Homo sapiens: one gene and its partners. The protein of the gene in region 2 interacts with the protein of the main gene of each other region in a pairwise test. Each region holds a gene or a part of one and is shown on either strand. Other genes may lie near its edges.

Region 1 (4,226 bases), on a different chromosome or scaffold from region 2:
GCCGACATCGCGACACAGTACTCCAGCCTGAGCGACAGAGCGAGGCTGTGTCTCAAAAATAAATAAATAATAAATTAAAAAAATAAGAGTATCTATAACCTGGTCCCAGCCTGAATTTCCTTTTTCACCCCAACACGTAGCCCTAGTTACATTCTTCTGACGTCTGTAAACAAGCCCAGCCCTTCCTGTTGTGAAGCCAAGTTCAGGTGGTTCCTCTTCGCCTGACTGTTTTCCCATTCCACTTACCGGAAGCCTAGTCATCCTTCGGAGGGCTGTACGGGGGTTGCAAGAAGCAACGGAAACGGTTCAGCACCTGCTACCTTCCATCATATTCTTTTCAATAAAGGGGCAACTCCCGCCAATGGCAGTGTAGATTTCCTAACCTCTACACATGGAAGATTCACACCATTCAGGATTGTTGTTTAACTGTTGAGAGAGCACTTGATACTTAACAGCTTACTAGGCTACAAGACAGCGCAGGAAAGAATCCTCTGTTGTCCTTTTATGTTATCCTGAACAGTTGGTTCACAGAGTTACTGTAAACACACAAAACATGACTGCCAGGGCTTAGTAGTGAGGAAGGTGGGAACTAGTCCTGACTCAGTTAACTGTGCCCAGGAGAAGCTGCTTAACCTCAAAGGATTTCACTATTACTAGAATCAATAATACCAACCCTAGGGGTAAAAATAAAGATAAATGTGTGCAAATCCTGCCTGCAGTCTCGGGCACGTCGTGGGTGTCCAAGAACTGTTCTTAGGCAGCCGGTGGGGACAAAGTCTGTGTGCCTCCTGTCCTGGAATAGGTCCCAAGGTCGGCTTACTTGCAAAGCAAGGGTACGGCGCAAGAGTACTGAATACGGGTTGGAAGGGCGCTGGCTCTACCCTCAGCTCATAGGCCGGCTGGGCGGCGCTGACCAGCAGCTAGGCCCCGTCTTCCCTAGGAACGGCCACGGGGGCCCTGGGAGGGTATGAATGTCTTTTTGCAGTGAGGCCTCTGGACCCCGCGGCCCCCCGGCAGCGCAACCAAAACTCAGGGGCAGGCGCCGCAGCCGCCTAGTGCAGCCAGATCCCCGCCGGCACCCTCAGGGGCGGAGCCGGAGGCAGGGCCTTCGGGCCGTACCAACTCCACGGGGGCAGGGGCCGCCTCCCTTCGGCCGCGCGCCACTCAAGTACGGCAGACAGGCAGCGAGGTTGCCGAGGCCGAGGCTAGCCTGCAGCCTCCTTTCTCCCGTGCCCTGGGCGCGGGGTGTACGGCAAGCGCGGGCGGGCGGGACAGGCACGCAGGGCACCCCCGGGGTTGGGCGCGGCGGGCGCGGGGCGGGGCCCGCGGGGGGGGGGGGCGGGGCGGCGGTGCCCTTGCGGCGCAGCTGGGGTCGCGGCCCTGCTCCCCGCGCTTTCTTAAGGCCCGCGGGCGGCGCAGGAGCGGCACTCGTGGCTGTGGTGGCTTCGGCAGCGGCTTCAGCAGATCGGCGGCATCAGCGGTAGCACCAGCACTAGCAGCATGTTGAGCCGGGCAGTGTGCGGGTGAGAAGAAAGGGGACCCGGTCACGGCCCCAAGGGCGAAGGGGCTCGCGGCGGGCAGGGCCTCCGCGGCAATGGCGACAGTGGCCGCACCGGGCCTGGCGGGACCGGGGCACCTGCAGGCGGTTCTCCCGGGAGTGCCCGGCGCGGCGGCTGGAGCGGGGATCCGCAGGGAGGGGACGCGGGGACTCGGGGGACGCCGCGCGCTGCCGTTCCTCGGCAGCCCAGCCTGCGTAGACGGTCCCGCGGCGCTGACTGACCGGGCTGTGCTTTCTCGTCTTCAGCACCAGCAGGCAGCTGGCTCCGGTTTTGGGGTATCTGGGCTCCAGGCAGAAGCACAGCCTCCCCGACCTGCCCTACGACTACGGCGCCCTGGAACCTCACATCAACGCGCAGATCATGCAGCTGCACCACAGCAAGCACCACGCGGCCTACGTGAACAACCTGAACGTCACCGAGGAGAAGTACCAGGAGGCGTTGGCCAAGGGTAGGTTCCAGGCTGAGCGGCGGGAGGCAGTCCCCGGCAGAGGCGACCCCAGGGAGCCAGGCCCCATACGGACGGGCCTCTCCGTGGAGGAGAACTCGCTTCGTATTTGTACCGGTTCCGAGTTTTCCAGGCACGATAGTCTCTCTTTTAAACACATGGTCTACCTCATTGTAGAAGGAGTGCCTCGATGGGTTTGAACACACTTCTGTCATCTCAGGGAACTTGGGGTCCTGCGAAGGAGCTTGCCTTACTGTTGTGAGCCACATTCCGTTACACATATTGCCAGCACTGGTGAATTGTAGGGCCTGAAAAGAAAGCTCTACTGTGTCACTCGTTTTTTTTGCAAATTGAAATTGTTCTTGTTGTATAATGTGCTTTGGGGAAATGTTTGGTCTCTCAGGTAGGTGTGCCAGCCGTTTGCAGGAGGGCTGAGAGCGCCTGTCCACTGGTGGCCAGACATCATCGGGTCCGCAGGTGTCTCTGAGTGTCAGGGTCACCTCCTGATAGAAGTGGGAGTGGTGTCTTACTGCCAGGTCACACTGAAGGTGGGAGACAGGAGGACACTACTCCGTGCTAGGAACCATGGTCCTTGTCATCTTCCTGAGAGCAAACGGGGTCGGGACTCCAGCCTAGGACTTGGAGACTCCCTGCATCCCCAGCTACCCTGCAGGTGAAACTTCACTGAGCCCACTTGACTTCAGGTGGGAGAGGAGGAGGCACACCGTTGTGGTGTGCGTTACCAAAAAAGCAGTAACCTAACTGTGGAACAGTTCAGGATCTTTAGACTTGATACTTTTCTTGATTTCCCTTAGGGGTCAAAGTTCACAAGGAAAATAGCCCTTTAGTGGGAAACTGAAACAGGCTTGTTTTTATTTACTATTTACTCATATTTGTAATGCAATTAAAATATATGTTGTTAACTTTTTTTTTTTTTCTCAAGAGCTCGGTTGATAAAACCAGGGGTATGTGGACTTTTTGAGTCTGTGCCTTTTGGGGGTGTGTATGGGAATGTTATGTTTTAACGTTTTTTACAAAATAGTATTGTCTTTTTAATTTATTCGTTAGTGGTTTGCACAAGGAAGATAATCGATAGTCATGTTTTTTAGACTCTCTGTATTGCTTGGTAAGCTACGTAGTAAAAAATGTTTACTTTTCCTTAAATGTTTTGAATTTCGGGGTTATGAAATTTGTTGAGTAATTTTTAGACAGTCACATCTTGTTGACTGGAGGCATCTAGTGGAAAAATGCAGTATTTCAGCCTGATTGTGTTTGAAGTAAATGATTAAAAGAGGAGGAAGTTACCACATTCTGGAAGATTTACTTGAGACAGACGAACCTTGAATTACGGGAAAAGGCCCCGTGATTTAGGAAATAACAAATTTGGGAAACATGTAATGGGGAGAGACTGGGGAATACCCCAGTTGTGAAAGTACTTCCTGTAAGGCAACATCTGACACCAGGAACCTTTCTCTTCAGTATTTTAAAAACAACTTAATTTCAGTCCTTTACTTGTGGAATCAGAGCCTTACTTATGTAATACAACCCACTGGAAAAAAGCTTTTTATTGTATTGTACTATATTGTTTATAAGTGATTGAGTACCTGCAGAGCTTTCTTTTACTTAAACATATTTTAAAAATTATTAAAAAGATTTTCATGTTTGAAAACTTGGGGAAAAAAGATAAAACAATGTCATAATCTCATCACATTTAACTGACTAATATGAATATTTTTCAACAAAAAGCATTTGACTTTTATTATTATTTGAGGCAAAAACTAAACTGAAACCAAATAAAATGTTGAATTTCAGAAAAGTGTTCTTAAAAGCAGATATTAAGCCCTCAATTTTTATTAATTTTAAAATGAGTAAGCAAACTGTAAGATGTTAAGATTATTAAATTATCTCTCATTAAGCATGTATCTTTCCCATTTTAAAAATTCAGTTACTATTGATTTATTAAAAAACAATAGAAAAGTTACATCTATTTTTAGAGTGACTCTCAAGAAAATTTAATAAGGGAAACACAGATCTATAAAAAACTGTTTGTAAACCTAACAAAGGAAAAAAAAAGTTGGTGTCTTTAAAAAACCCTTTGAGATTAGCTGTGTATTCAGATATCAGTTGGTTCTCTCCTTTCTGAATCGCTAAACAACTGGAGCTTGTTTCAGAAAGCAGCATTGTCTACGTATGTTCCTTTTAAAAATTTTTTTTTTAATTCT
Region 2 (4,767 bases):
TTCACAATATCACAGTATAGAACTTTAATTTTACTTATTATTTTCCCCTCCCACATGTATTTCATTACTAATAACATCAATGTGGTGATGTCCATAGGATACTGTAGTTTTAAGGGTCTTGGTTGGAAAGAAGAAATACCTACATGGTTTTGCCATATTGTTTTCTGAAAAAAATTCCAAGTAGTGAGGGTGGAGAGAATCTTTCCACTTCTCTCACAGTAGACTTCAGTCACTATTTCTTATCGCAGGTTGCACTGTTTTACCTTTAGAAGGGAAAGAAATTTCAAATAGCTTCTTCCTTAGGCCTTCAGTGACATGATTTTCTTTTGTAATTCTAACACTTTTTATCATTAAAAATATTTTTTTCAGTTTTTGAGGAAAGCGGGTACATCTATCTTTTAAGAATATACTGCCCCCCGAATAATGAGATTATTCAGCCTTTCACTATGGTGTTTTCTTTTAAGATTGGCAGCTCCAAGGTGAGAATGCCTAAGATGGAAACTTGGCTCTACCCTTATTAGCCGTATGATTGTGAGAAAGTTAATTTCTATAAGCCTCTATTTTGTTCCTGTATGCAGGGACACATACAGTATTTATTTCATAGAGCTGTTGGGAGGATTAAATTAGATAAGGGACTTTTTCTTTTCTTTTTTTTTGAGACAGAGTCTCACTCTTGTTGCCCAGGCTGGAGTGCAGTGACATGATTTCGGCTCACTGCAATCTCTGCCTCCCAGGTTCAAGCAATTCTCCTGCCTCAGGATCCAGAGTAGCTGGGATTACAGGTGCCCGACACTATGCCCCACTAATTTTTTTGTAGTTTTAGTAGAGATGGAGTTTCACTATGTTGGCCAGGCTAGTCTCGAACTCCTGACCTCAGGTGATCCGCCTGCCTCGGCCTCCCAAAGTGCTGGGATTACAGGCATGAGCCACTGTGCCTGGCCTTAGATAATGCACATTTAAATCCCTATGTCAGGGGCTGGGCACCATGGCTCACACCTGTAATCTCAGCACTTTGGGAGGCAAAGGTGGGCCAATTGCTTGATCCCAGGAATTCAAGACCAGCCTGGGCAACCTGGCAAAACTCCGTCTCAACAAAACATTTAAAAAATTAGCCTGGCATGGTGGCATGTGCCTGTACTTGGGAGGCTTAGGTGGGAGGATCACTGGAGCCCGGGAAGTCGAGGTTGCAGTGAGCCATGATTGCACAACTGCACTCCAGCCTGGCTGACAGAGCAAGACCCTGTCTCAAAAAATAAAAATTAAAAAAATAAAGTCATTTGTCGAATTGGATGCTTTTAGTCACAACTCAAAATGGGCTCATCAGTAAAGGAATTCGCTGGCACATAACTGAAAAACAGGTAAGACTTGACTTAGTAGCTCACTGATCTCATCAAGGACAAGTTTTTCCCCTGTTTCCTGTTTTTGCCTCCATGGTGTTGGCTCTATCTTAAGGCAGGCTCTCCTCATTGCAGGATGGCTGCCTGCTGTTTCTATGTGTAAGGCTGATACTTCTGTGTTCATACCCAGATGCACAGAGAGAGGGCTGGAGGAGTGACTTTGTTCCAGAATTTCTAACAAAATTCTGAGATCCACTCTATATTCGATCAACTTATGCAAATGTCCATTTCCAACCAATAACTGTGGCGGGGTTATAGTGCACTGACTGACTTAGCTTAGACCACATGCCTTGGTGCCAAGCTTCCCTGGCACCTTCTAGATCGTTAAATGGAAACAAGCTGTTGGAAAGAAGAGATGGGGACCTGGATGCTGGAGAGGCAAGTAGCAGTGCCTGGTACAAAGTAAGGACACTATTTTTAAATTGTGATTATTAAGGAGACACTATTTATTGACGATCCACAGTATGCGAAGCACTGCACACATGGTGTCATATTTAACCCTCACAACTTTAAAAGGTAGATATTGTTGTATCCTTTAATAGAGGAGGAAACTGAGGCTCAGGAAGAGACATGTGCCCAAATTCAGGAAAGCTAACGTGTGGCAGACCTGAGATTCAAATTGAAGTCTTTTCTCAAATGTTTGCCCTAAGGATTTATTTTTTGGTGCTGAGAAAATGTGTGAACCAGGGAAATTAACAAGAGGATTTGGTGGGAGTGAAGAGGGCAAATGAGATTTGCAAGTGACAGGAGGCTTTCCACTTCTTTAACAGATCATGACAACTGGCCCAAGGGAGCAGGGGACCTTTCTGTTGTCAAAAAGATGAAGGAGACCTTTAAGGAGAAAGCTAAGCTCTGAGCTGAGGAAACAAGGTGTCCTCCATCCCCCAGTGCCTTCACATCTTGAGGATATGCTTCTGTACTTTTTAAAAGCTTATAGTTGGTATGGAAAACATTTTTCTTATTTTTAAGTGTTATTAATTATATCTATGGAAAAACTATTCCTGAAATATATACAGTCTTATGTCCCAATCAGAGTCTTTTAACCTATGATTTAAAAATGTATAAGTAACAGAAATTAACATATTTTAATGACTTTACTTTTTATTTCTAAGAAAAGTATTTGAAAAATGGAATAATTTTAAATCAATGATAATTCTAGGGATCATGAACTCCCAGAAGATTTTATTATTTAATTGTAAAGGTAGAGGCCAGACGCAGTGGCTCACGCCTGTAATTCCAGCACTTTGGGAGGCCGAGGTAGGCGGGTCAGTTGAGGTCAGGAGTTCAAGACCAGGCTGGCCAACATGGTAAAACCCTGTCTCTACTGAAAAACAACAAAAACAAAAACACAAATTAGTCGGGTGTGGTGGCACACACCTGTAGTCCCAGGTACTTGGGAGGCTGAGGCAGGAGGATCGCTTGAACCCAGGAAGCAGAGGTTGCAGTGAGCTGAGATCATGCTACTGCAGTCCAGCCTGGGCTACAGAGTGAGACTGCATCTCAAAAAAAACCCAAAAAACAAAAACAAACAACAACAACAAAATTATAAAGGTAGAAAATAAACCTAAATTGTGTCGTAATTAAGATTATTAAAATTAGAATTATACAATGACTTATTTTTGGTGGCAAATACTTTAGGAGCAATAATGCCTTATGGTAATTATTGATGTATAGTTTCTTTTGTTTATGAAGTCAAATTTGTATAAATTCTCTTAATTCAAAGAAAAAGTTTTATGTGATTTATTTTTGGCAGTGCCTGATTTGTGTCTTGATTTTCTGTCCAAAGTATTCCCTTTTTTCCATGTATCTCCTTTTGTAGGCAAAAACAAAATTTCAGTTGCATGCAAATGTATTAGGGTTCCATATTCTGCCTTCCGTGGCTCCAGTCTGATAGTTAGACCCTTATTGAAGAAATGCCTTTAGCAGATTGAATATGTTCATTCTTTGTCTTAATCAAAGTTCTTTCAAGTATCTGAGGTGAAGTAGCTATTTTCTTTTTTTTATCATTAACACTCACTTTATTTATTTATTTATTTATTTATTTTTAAGATGGAGTCTCACTCTGTCACCCAGGCTGGAGTGCAGTAGCATAATCTCGGCTCACCACAACCTCCACCTCCTGGGTTCAAGTGATTCTGCTGCTTCAGCCTCCTGCGTAGCTGGGATGACAGGTGTGCACCACCACGCCCGGCCAATTTTTGTATTTTTAGTAGAGATGGTGTTTCACCATATTGGCCAGGCTGGTCTTGATCTCCTGACCTTAAGTGATCTGCCCGCTTTGGCCTCCCAAATTGCTGGGATTACAGGTGAGAGCCACCACGCCCGGCCTGTCATTTACCCTCATTTTAAAGTGTGTGAGTTACCAAGCTCTGGGGTTTGGGACCCAGAATCTGCAGCTTTCTCATGCTCCCAAGCAGGGCTAGCACGAGGGAGAGGCTAATGAGGTGCCCAGGGTGCAGCATTTAAGGAGCTATTCTCCATTGTCAGGTTTGTGCCAGTGCAGAATTGCCCCTGAGAGTGAGTGTGTCCTTCAATTTTGTGCTCATACTAATAATGTGGGAAGATCAGAAAGCTTCATTTTCCTCCCAGATAGCCCTTTAACAGTGGCCTTCTGGAACTGATAATATCATAACAACTGAGAATTACAAACCATGTTAGAGGGAAAAGTGGCCCTAATACAGGTTGGTGGAGAAGATGGAAAAGGCAGGGCTTGCTTTCACATGACCTGTGTTAATGACTGCCATCGACTCCTTAAATCTCCATAGCGTTGCCAGTTATTTCTGCTTAAGGGACAGAACCTGCCTATGTAGCACTAAACTTAGGTACAACTGCTTATTAGAGCTTCTTCTTAGACTATCACTGGACAGCTGGTCATTATCTATATTTTTAGAATTATGAATTTATTATCCAGGACTCTTATGTACATCATAATAGTATCCTGTCAATAATGTACTTTTGCAACTACGCTTAGTAAATTTTGTTGTAGAGTGACTGTTCTTGAATAGGCTTAATAATTTGGAGCACCTACTATGTATTTAGCATTATGCTAGGAGTCAGACATGCAATGGTGAAAAAATACACATGTATCTTGTCCTTACTGAGCTTACAGTAGGGAGAGATTGAGAGAAAGAGAGAGAACACGAGTGCTATAAAGGATAAGGCCATGATGTCCACGGCATATAACTGAAAGACAGGAAACAAAATGAAAATTCTATATTTATGTAAAAAGAGTTTGTTGATAAAGATGACCCTTGTGAACATTATACCTCCCCCACACTAATCTTATGCTTTGTGGCTTATGTTCAGGTCCTCTGAAAAGCAGGTGCCCAGACATAATGAGATTTGCATGACACTTATTGGGTACCAGGCC
Region 3 (3,400 bases), on a different chromosome or scaffold from region 2:
GGTCCCAAGAGAGCCAGGCCACGGTTGCCAGGGCTGGCCCTGCTCTGTGAAGGCCCCAGGGCTCGAGGATTTTCTACCAGGTCACTCTGCTGTGTTTGGCCTCCGTTCCCAAAGTCACCTCATGATCCAGGAGGGCTGCTGCAGCCCTCACATCATGTCCCAGGCTGTAGGATGGAGGAAGTAGAAGGGAAGGGGCAAAAGGTATGTGCCTTCTTTTAAGGAAGGTTCCAGAAGCCGCCATATTGAATACTTACAGTTATATCTCATTGGCCACAACTTAGTCTCATGCTCACACCTCATCACAAGGCCACCTGGGAAGCGTAATCTCTACTCTGGGTGGCCATATGCCCTGTTGCCACTTCTAGCCCTGGGCCGCTGGGGAAGGCAGCATGGGCGAGAAGACAGGAAGGGCCGCTTCTGCCGCAGCGCCCCGACCTAATGGAGCAGCCGGCTCACCTGCTCGTTCAAGCAGCCCACTCGAGCCTTGCCAAAGTGCTGACACGGGGCAGTGACAGGAGGCCCAACCCCTGTGGGTGACAAGCCCCCGGTCTGGGGAGAGCACTCAGGCCGCTCTGGAGCTCTGTGCCAAGGAACTGTATGGGTGCCCTGGGGCTGCCATAAACCGCAGGGATGGATTGTCTCCTAGATCCAGCAGTCCGAGATCCAGGTGCCAGCAGGGTGGGCTCCTTCCGGGTGCCATGACAGAAGGATGTGTTCCAGGCCTCTGTCCTCGGCTCGCAGATGGTCCACTTCTCCCTGTATATCTTCACCTCATGTTCCCCTGTGCATGTCTTCTGCCCACACACCCCCTTTTTATGAGGACACAGTCATATTGAATTAGGGTCCACTCTGATGACCTCATCTTAGTGTGATCACCTCTGCGAAGGCCCTGTCTCCAAATAAGGTCACACTGAAGTGTTGGGGCTTGGACTCCACCGTATCTCTTCTGGGGGAAGGCACGATTCCAGTCCCCACTCCTCCATGATTAATGCCTGTCAGACAGACAAGGACGCAGAGGCACAGGGGCCCTGTCGTCACAGCTAGCTCATTCCCGCAGCTCCCCCAGCTCCCCGGCTGGCCCCCGGGTCTGGGTGCTGGTGGAACTGAGCCAAGACCATTGCCCCCGCCTAGGTTGGGAGGCTATGTGTGACTGGAAGGACGTCCTGTCGGGTGGCGAGAAGCAGAGAATCGGCATGGCCCGCATGTTCTACCACAGGTGAGCACTCCGGGCCGGCAGGCTCCCTGGGGTCCCCTGGAAGGGGAAGTAGCAGCTGTGGGGAGGCCTGGGCTCAGTGGAGCCTGAGCCGGGCTGGGGTGTTGGGCCCTGGAGGGTGCACAGACTCTCCTCTCGGCCCGGACCCCCAGGCCCAAGTACGCCCTCCTGGATGAATGCACCAGCGCCGTGAGCATCGACGTGGAAGGCAAGATCTTCCAGGCGGCCAAGGACGCGGGCATTGCCCTGCTCTCCATCACCCACCGGCCCTCCCTGTGGTAGGTGCCCTGTCTCCCTGCCTGGGGTCGGTGGGAGTGGCTGCCTGAGGGGAGGAGGTGGCCTGGCGGGCCCGGCAGCAGCAGGCGGCTGTCATCAGCAGCCCCCGTGCCGTGCCCCTGACCCTGTCCCTCTCCTGGCCAGGAAATACCACACACACTTGCTACAGTTCGATGGGGAGGGCGGCTGGAAGTTCGAGAAGCTGGACTCAGCTGCCCGCCTGAGCCTGACGGAGGAGAAGCAGCGGCTGGAGCAGCAGCTGGCGGGCATTCCCAAGATGCAGCGGCGCCTCCAGGAGCTCTGCCAGATCCTGGGCGAGGCCGTGGCCCCAGCGCATGTGCCGGCACCTAGCCCGCAAGGCCCTGGTGGCCTCCAGGGTGCCTCCACCTGACACAACCGTCCCCGGCCCCTGCCCCGCCCCCAAGCTCGGATCACATGAAGGAGACAGCAGCACCCACCCATGCACGCACCCCGCCCCTGCATGCCTGGCCCCTCCTCCTAGAAAACCCTTCCCGCCCTCGGGAAAGTAGATGTGGAGGGTGGCGCCCTGCGTAACCCTCGCCCTGTCCCTCCCACTCCCTGGGGGCGCTGTTCCACAGTGACTGGGCCCTGTCCAGGGCAGTGAGTCCTCTACTTTGCTCCGTGGAGGAAGCTGGGGTACAAGGGGCCCAGTGCTGGCCACACAGCAGCGCAGCCGAGCCCCAGGAGCCCGTCAGGCCACAGCCCCTGGCACTGCAGGTGGCCTCCCTCCAGAGACTCGAGTCCCCATGATTCCCTCCTCGTCAGTCTCTCAAAGACCCCATGGTCCATCCCCTGAGGGTGGTCAGCCAAGGCTCCCGTTCCGTGGGATGCCATAAAAGCCGCCCAGTGGGACCCACAGTCACACAGAGCGCCTCACCTGCATCCTCTCCCCCACAAGAGCCCCAAAGATCCCACGGGAGAGGGGAGAGGGACGCACAGCACTGCCTGCCAAGCGAGAATGCAGGCCCCGCCCCCTCGGCCCCTCACCACCTCTTTCTACAGCCTAATTTATTGGATTCCCTATTCGTAGCCATCTCCGTGGCCAATGTGACTACCGTGCCAGCAGCGGGGGCGGCCCAGCCTCTGAGTCCCGTGGGGCCCCGGCTCCCACCGGTGCCAAACCCAGCCCCTGCGGCCGTCACCCCGCCAGCCTACACTGCCAGCCGCCACCGGGGCACACGGGCCTCTGCTTGCCAGCCAGGAGTGCGGACACCATGTTCCCAGCTCAGTGCCAAAGAGGGGTCACCAGGGGGAGCTGTCTGCGGAGCCAGCGCCTGCCCGAGAGAGACCCCACCGCCACCGTGTGCCTTTCCCGGGCCCTCAGCCCTCGGGCCGGGCACCACCCCCAGTCCCCCCAGTAAAAGCCTCCACTGGCAAATGCAGTCCTTCCTCCCTGCCTCAGAGCCTGGTGGTGTCTGCTGTGGGTCTCGAGGAGAGATGGAGGAGAGGGAGTGGGTTGCCTGTGGGGGAAAGAGTGAGTTTGGGAAAGGAGTGGGCCTGACCCCCAAGCCCCTCCGAGGGGGAAAGTCACCAGAAGACATGGTCCAGCATGCCCTCCGCCGAGCCTCACGCCAATGCTCTTAGGATTCCTGTGACGGTGGCGGGGCGGAACCTGCAACAACATTGCACAGAAATACTGGCTGAGCCCAAATAGGACTAGGGGAGGGGATCATGCTGGTCCCTGTGGGAGGAGCACGAAGGCAAGAGAAGGGATGTCTAAGCTGCCACACAGGGTGCTGCTGGCCCTTCTAGGGAGAGGCGGCCACTTGTGCAGGGGCCTGGGGGGAACTGGGAGCACAGCGCAGGGTGTTCGTGCTGCATGCAGGGGAAGGGAGGGCAGGGGAAGGGAGGGCTGCGGCCGGCGGGCCTTGGAGGCCACACTACAGAGAC
Region 4 (3,110 bases), on a different chromosome or scaffold from region 2:
TGGTGGGGCACATGGAGTGCCCTGGGAAGGATAATGCTGCACGCCCTTTCCCCGAGTGCCTGCAGCAATGTAGTGTGAGGATGCTGGGCCTTTGGGGTTCCTTAACACTTCAGGCTGGTCAGAGAGGCATGTGGCACTTTCAAGGCTCCAGGGGCACGATTTGGGTAAAAGGCTTTGTGATGCTGCCACATAAGTACTGATGTTGCACTCCATGGAGGCAGTGTGATACAGTGATGAAGGGTCCAGGGGCTCTGGATGGGCATCTTTCCTATGCCACCTATTAGTCCCATGTCCTTGGACAGGCTAGTTAACTATCCTCTGCCTCATTTTCCACGTCTTTGAAATGGGGCTAATGCATCCTATTTCTGGGTGTTGTGAGGGCTGGGTGTGACGTTGCCTGTAAAGCACTTACCCCCATACCCTGCACTTGGAAAAGGAAGGTCATGGCTGCATTATAGCCATCATCACCATTTCTTTTCACGAAGAGACTTCTTAGGAGTTCCAGGAGGAGATGGGTGTGAATTCCACAAACATTTATTGAGCATGTAGGTAGGTGTTAGGAACTCCTAAAAGTCACTGCCCCGCCTGTCCAGGGAACAAGGACTAGGGAACAGCCTGTTGCTCAGAAGTGGTCATGCAGATACAGTGCTAGGAGCTCAGTGGAGTTCTCAGCCTCTTCCAGCCAGGGGACATGGGGAAGGCTCTCTGGAGGCAGGAGTATCTGAGCAGAAACTTGAAGGGTGGAGAGGTTTGGAATGTTTGGAGAGGGTAGGGATGGGAGTTAGGGAGTGTGAGTCCTGCTGTAACACAGGTGTCCCCAGCTTCACCCTCCTTCCTTCCCTGGCAGGCGAGGCTGTGAGTGTGGTGGGCTTTGGCGTCTTTGGCCAGTCTTGCGGGCCCTCGGTGACCTCAGGCATCCTTTCGGCTGTGGTGCAGGTGAATGGCACGCCCGTAATGCTGCAGACCACGTGTGCTGTGCACAGCGGCTCCAGTGGGGGACCCCTCTTCTCCAACCACTCAGGAAACCTCCTTGGTAACCAGCTCTTTGGCCCCCTCCCGCCCTCCCACTTGCCAGAACCTCAGTCCCACCCCATGAGTGCTTGTGGCCAGCCCCAGTGCACCCTCTGTCTGGGAAAATGGTGGGCATTATGAGTGAGCTAGCGAAGGTTTGCAGGCTGTTCTCCTGATGGTGGAGAGGGACGGATGCTGGACTGGGAGGAAAGAGATCTGGGCTCTGGTCCCTTCTCTGCTACTAATCTAATCTGGTTTGATCTGTGAAATTGAGGAGTTGGATTAGTCAAAGCGTCACAGACTCAAAAGCCAACAGAGGCTGGAAAGATAAAGCAAATGAATGAGAAGACAACAGGGAGGGGAGGGGAGGGGTCTAAACTGAAGCGCACTCGACTCAGCTGCTGCAGACTGTGGCCATGAAGGAGGATGGGCCTAACGTTGGCTGGTATTCTAATATTTTCACAAGACATGTAAAGCTTTTTTAAAAAAATACATGTGGCCGTTAAATCGATCAATTTTTAAATTTTGGTAACATTCAGGTTTTTAAAAAACAGTCTGTTTAGCTGTCAAAAAGAAAAAAACATGAGTTCATCTAGAAACCTCCAACTCCAGTCCAGTCTAACTCTCCTTGTTTCTTCTTTCTCCTGTAGTGAAAAACCTTGCTCTTGTTGTCTACAATATGTTTACTTATCTGTTCCATCCTAGTATACAAGTAAAATTGTATTTGCATAACTTTAGTATATTTCCTCTAAATATTTAGTACTTACAAAGAGGAAATATTGGAGCCGTAAGTAATATTTAGAGCCATAAGTCTAGGCCTGGTGTGGTAGCTCGTGCCAGTAATCCCAACACTTCCGGAGGCTGAGGCAAGAGGATCACTTGAAATGGGAGTTCGAGACCAGCCTGGGCAACATAGTGAGACTCTGCCTCTATTTTTATTTAAAAAAATTTTTTTTAATTAAAAAAAAAGAAAGGAAAATACTAAGTCTACCTTGGAGAGGCCTGGCAGATACCACCTCAGCCAAGTGATCAAGGTGAACGTCAGAAGTACTCCATACAGACATCAGATAGCTGAGACACTGGGAAGGACACATGGCTTTTATGGTATTCTTCCCAATAATGTGTAACCTTAAACAATTAAAAGTAATGGCAAAACAATTAAAAGTAATGACAAAAACCGCATTCATTTTTGCACCAACCCAATAGTCATGAGAAAACATTAGGTAGGCCTCAATTGAGGGTCATTCTCTAAAATCACTGACCTGAGCCAGACATGGTGGTATGTGCCTGTAGTCCTGGCTCTGCAGGAATCTGAAGTGGGAAGATCACTTGAGCCCAGGAGTTCAAGGCTGCAGTGAACTATGGTCACCATTACACTTTAGCCTGTGTGACAGAGCGAGACCCATCTCAAAAAAATAAACAGTGTTTATTTAAAAAAAAAAAAAAAAAAGCCAGGTATGGTGGCTCGCACTTGTAATTCTAGCACTTTTGGAGGCCAGGGCGGGAGGATTGCTTGAGTCTGGGAGTTCAAGACCAAGCTGGACAACCATAGTGAGGCCCCATCTCTACAAAATATTTTAGGGAGGCTGAGGCGGGAGAATCACTTGAGCCCAGGAGGTTGAGGTTGCAGTGAGCTATAATCCCACCACTGCACTCTAGCATGGGTGACAGAGCGAGACCTTGCCTCTAAAAAAACAAAAACAAGAACAAAAAAAAAAACTGTAAATAAATAAAATAACCTGCACTTTTAAAAATGTCAAGGCCACGAAAGATAAGGAAAGACTGAGGAACTGACCCAGATTGGAGGAGATTTGGGAGATGCGACAACTAAATGGAATATGGAGTCCTAGACTGGATATTGGAACTGAAAAAGGACATTAGTGGAAAAACTAGTGCAACTCATGTCAATGAGTTCTGTAGTTCACTTAATAACAGTATTCTACCAAGGTATATGTTTTGGTTTTGATAAATATTTTTTGGTGACATTAGATACGAACATAAAGGAAAGCTGGTCAAAGGGTATATAGAATTCTGCAATATTTAGGCAAGACTTCTGTATGTCTGAAATTATCTTTAAAAAACTACACACACATCCATGC

The links. Proteins that work in one complex are often made in the same cells at the same time.
Region 1: the proteins of PECR (region 2) and SOD2 come close enough for resonance energy transfer, tested with the Homo sapiens proteins (one large-scale study listed by BioGRID).
Region 3: the proteins of PECR (region 2) and ABCD1 come close enough for resonance energy transfer, tested with the Homo sapiens proteins (one large-scale study listed by BioGRID).
Region 4: the proteins of PECR (region 2) and TYSND1 come close enough for resonance energy transfer, tested with the Homo sapiens proteins (one large-scale study listed by BioGRID).

What each region holds. Positions count from the first base shown.
Region 1 is NC_000006.12:159,690,442-159,694,667, reverse strand, and holds the start of SOD2 (superoxide dismutase [Mn], mitochondrial isoform A precursor), read left to right. Parts: upstream 1-1,426; 5' UTR 1,427-1,500; coding exon 1,501-1,523; intron 1,524-1,804; coding exon 1,805-2,007; coding exon of another isoform or gene 2,008-2,204; exon of another isoform or gene 2,205-3,749; intron 3,750-4,226. UniProt on the Homo sapiens protein: Destroys superoxide anion radicals which are normally produced within the cells and which are toxic to biological systems.
Region 2 is NC_000002.12:216,036,761-216,041,527, reverse strand, and holds the end of PECR (peroxisomal trans-2-enoyl-CoA reductase), read left to right. Parts: intron 1-2,167; coding exon 2,168-2,253; 3' UTR 2,254-3,140; downstream 3,141-4,767. UniProt on the Homo sapiens protein: Participates in chain elongation of fatty acids. Catalyzes the reduction of trans-2-enoyl-CoAs of varying chain lengths from 6:1 to 16:1, having maximum activity with 10:1 CoA. Has no 2,4-dienoyl-CoA reductase activity.
Region 3 is NC_000023.11:153,741,856-153,745,255, forward strand, and holds the end of ABCD1 (ATP-binding cassette sub-family D member 1), read left to right. Parts: intron 1-1,131; coding exon 1,132-1,216; intron 1,217-1,365; coding exon 1,366-1,491; intron 1,492-1,633; coding exon 1,634-1,880; 3' UTR 1,881-2,900; downstream 2,901-3,400. UniProt on the Homo sapiens protein: ATP-dependent transporter of the ATP-binding cassette (ABC) family involved in the transport of very long chain fatty acid (VLCFA)-CoA from the cytosol to the peroxisome lumen.
Region 4 is NC_000010.11:70,140,591-70,143,700, reverse strand, and holds part of TYSND1 (peroxisomal leader peptide-processing protease), read left to right. Parts: intron 1-847; coding exon 848-1,033; intron 1,034-3,110. UniProt on the Homo sapiens protein: Peroxisomal protease that mediates both the removal of the leader peptide from proteins containing a PTS2 target sequence and processes several PTS1-containing proteins.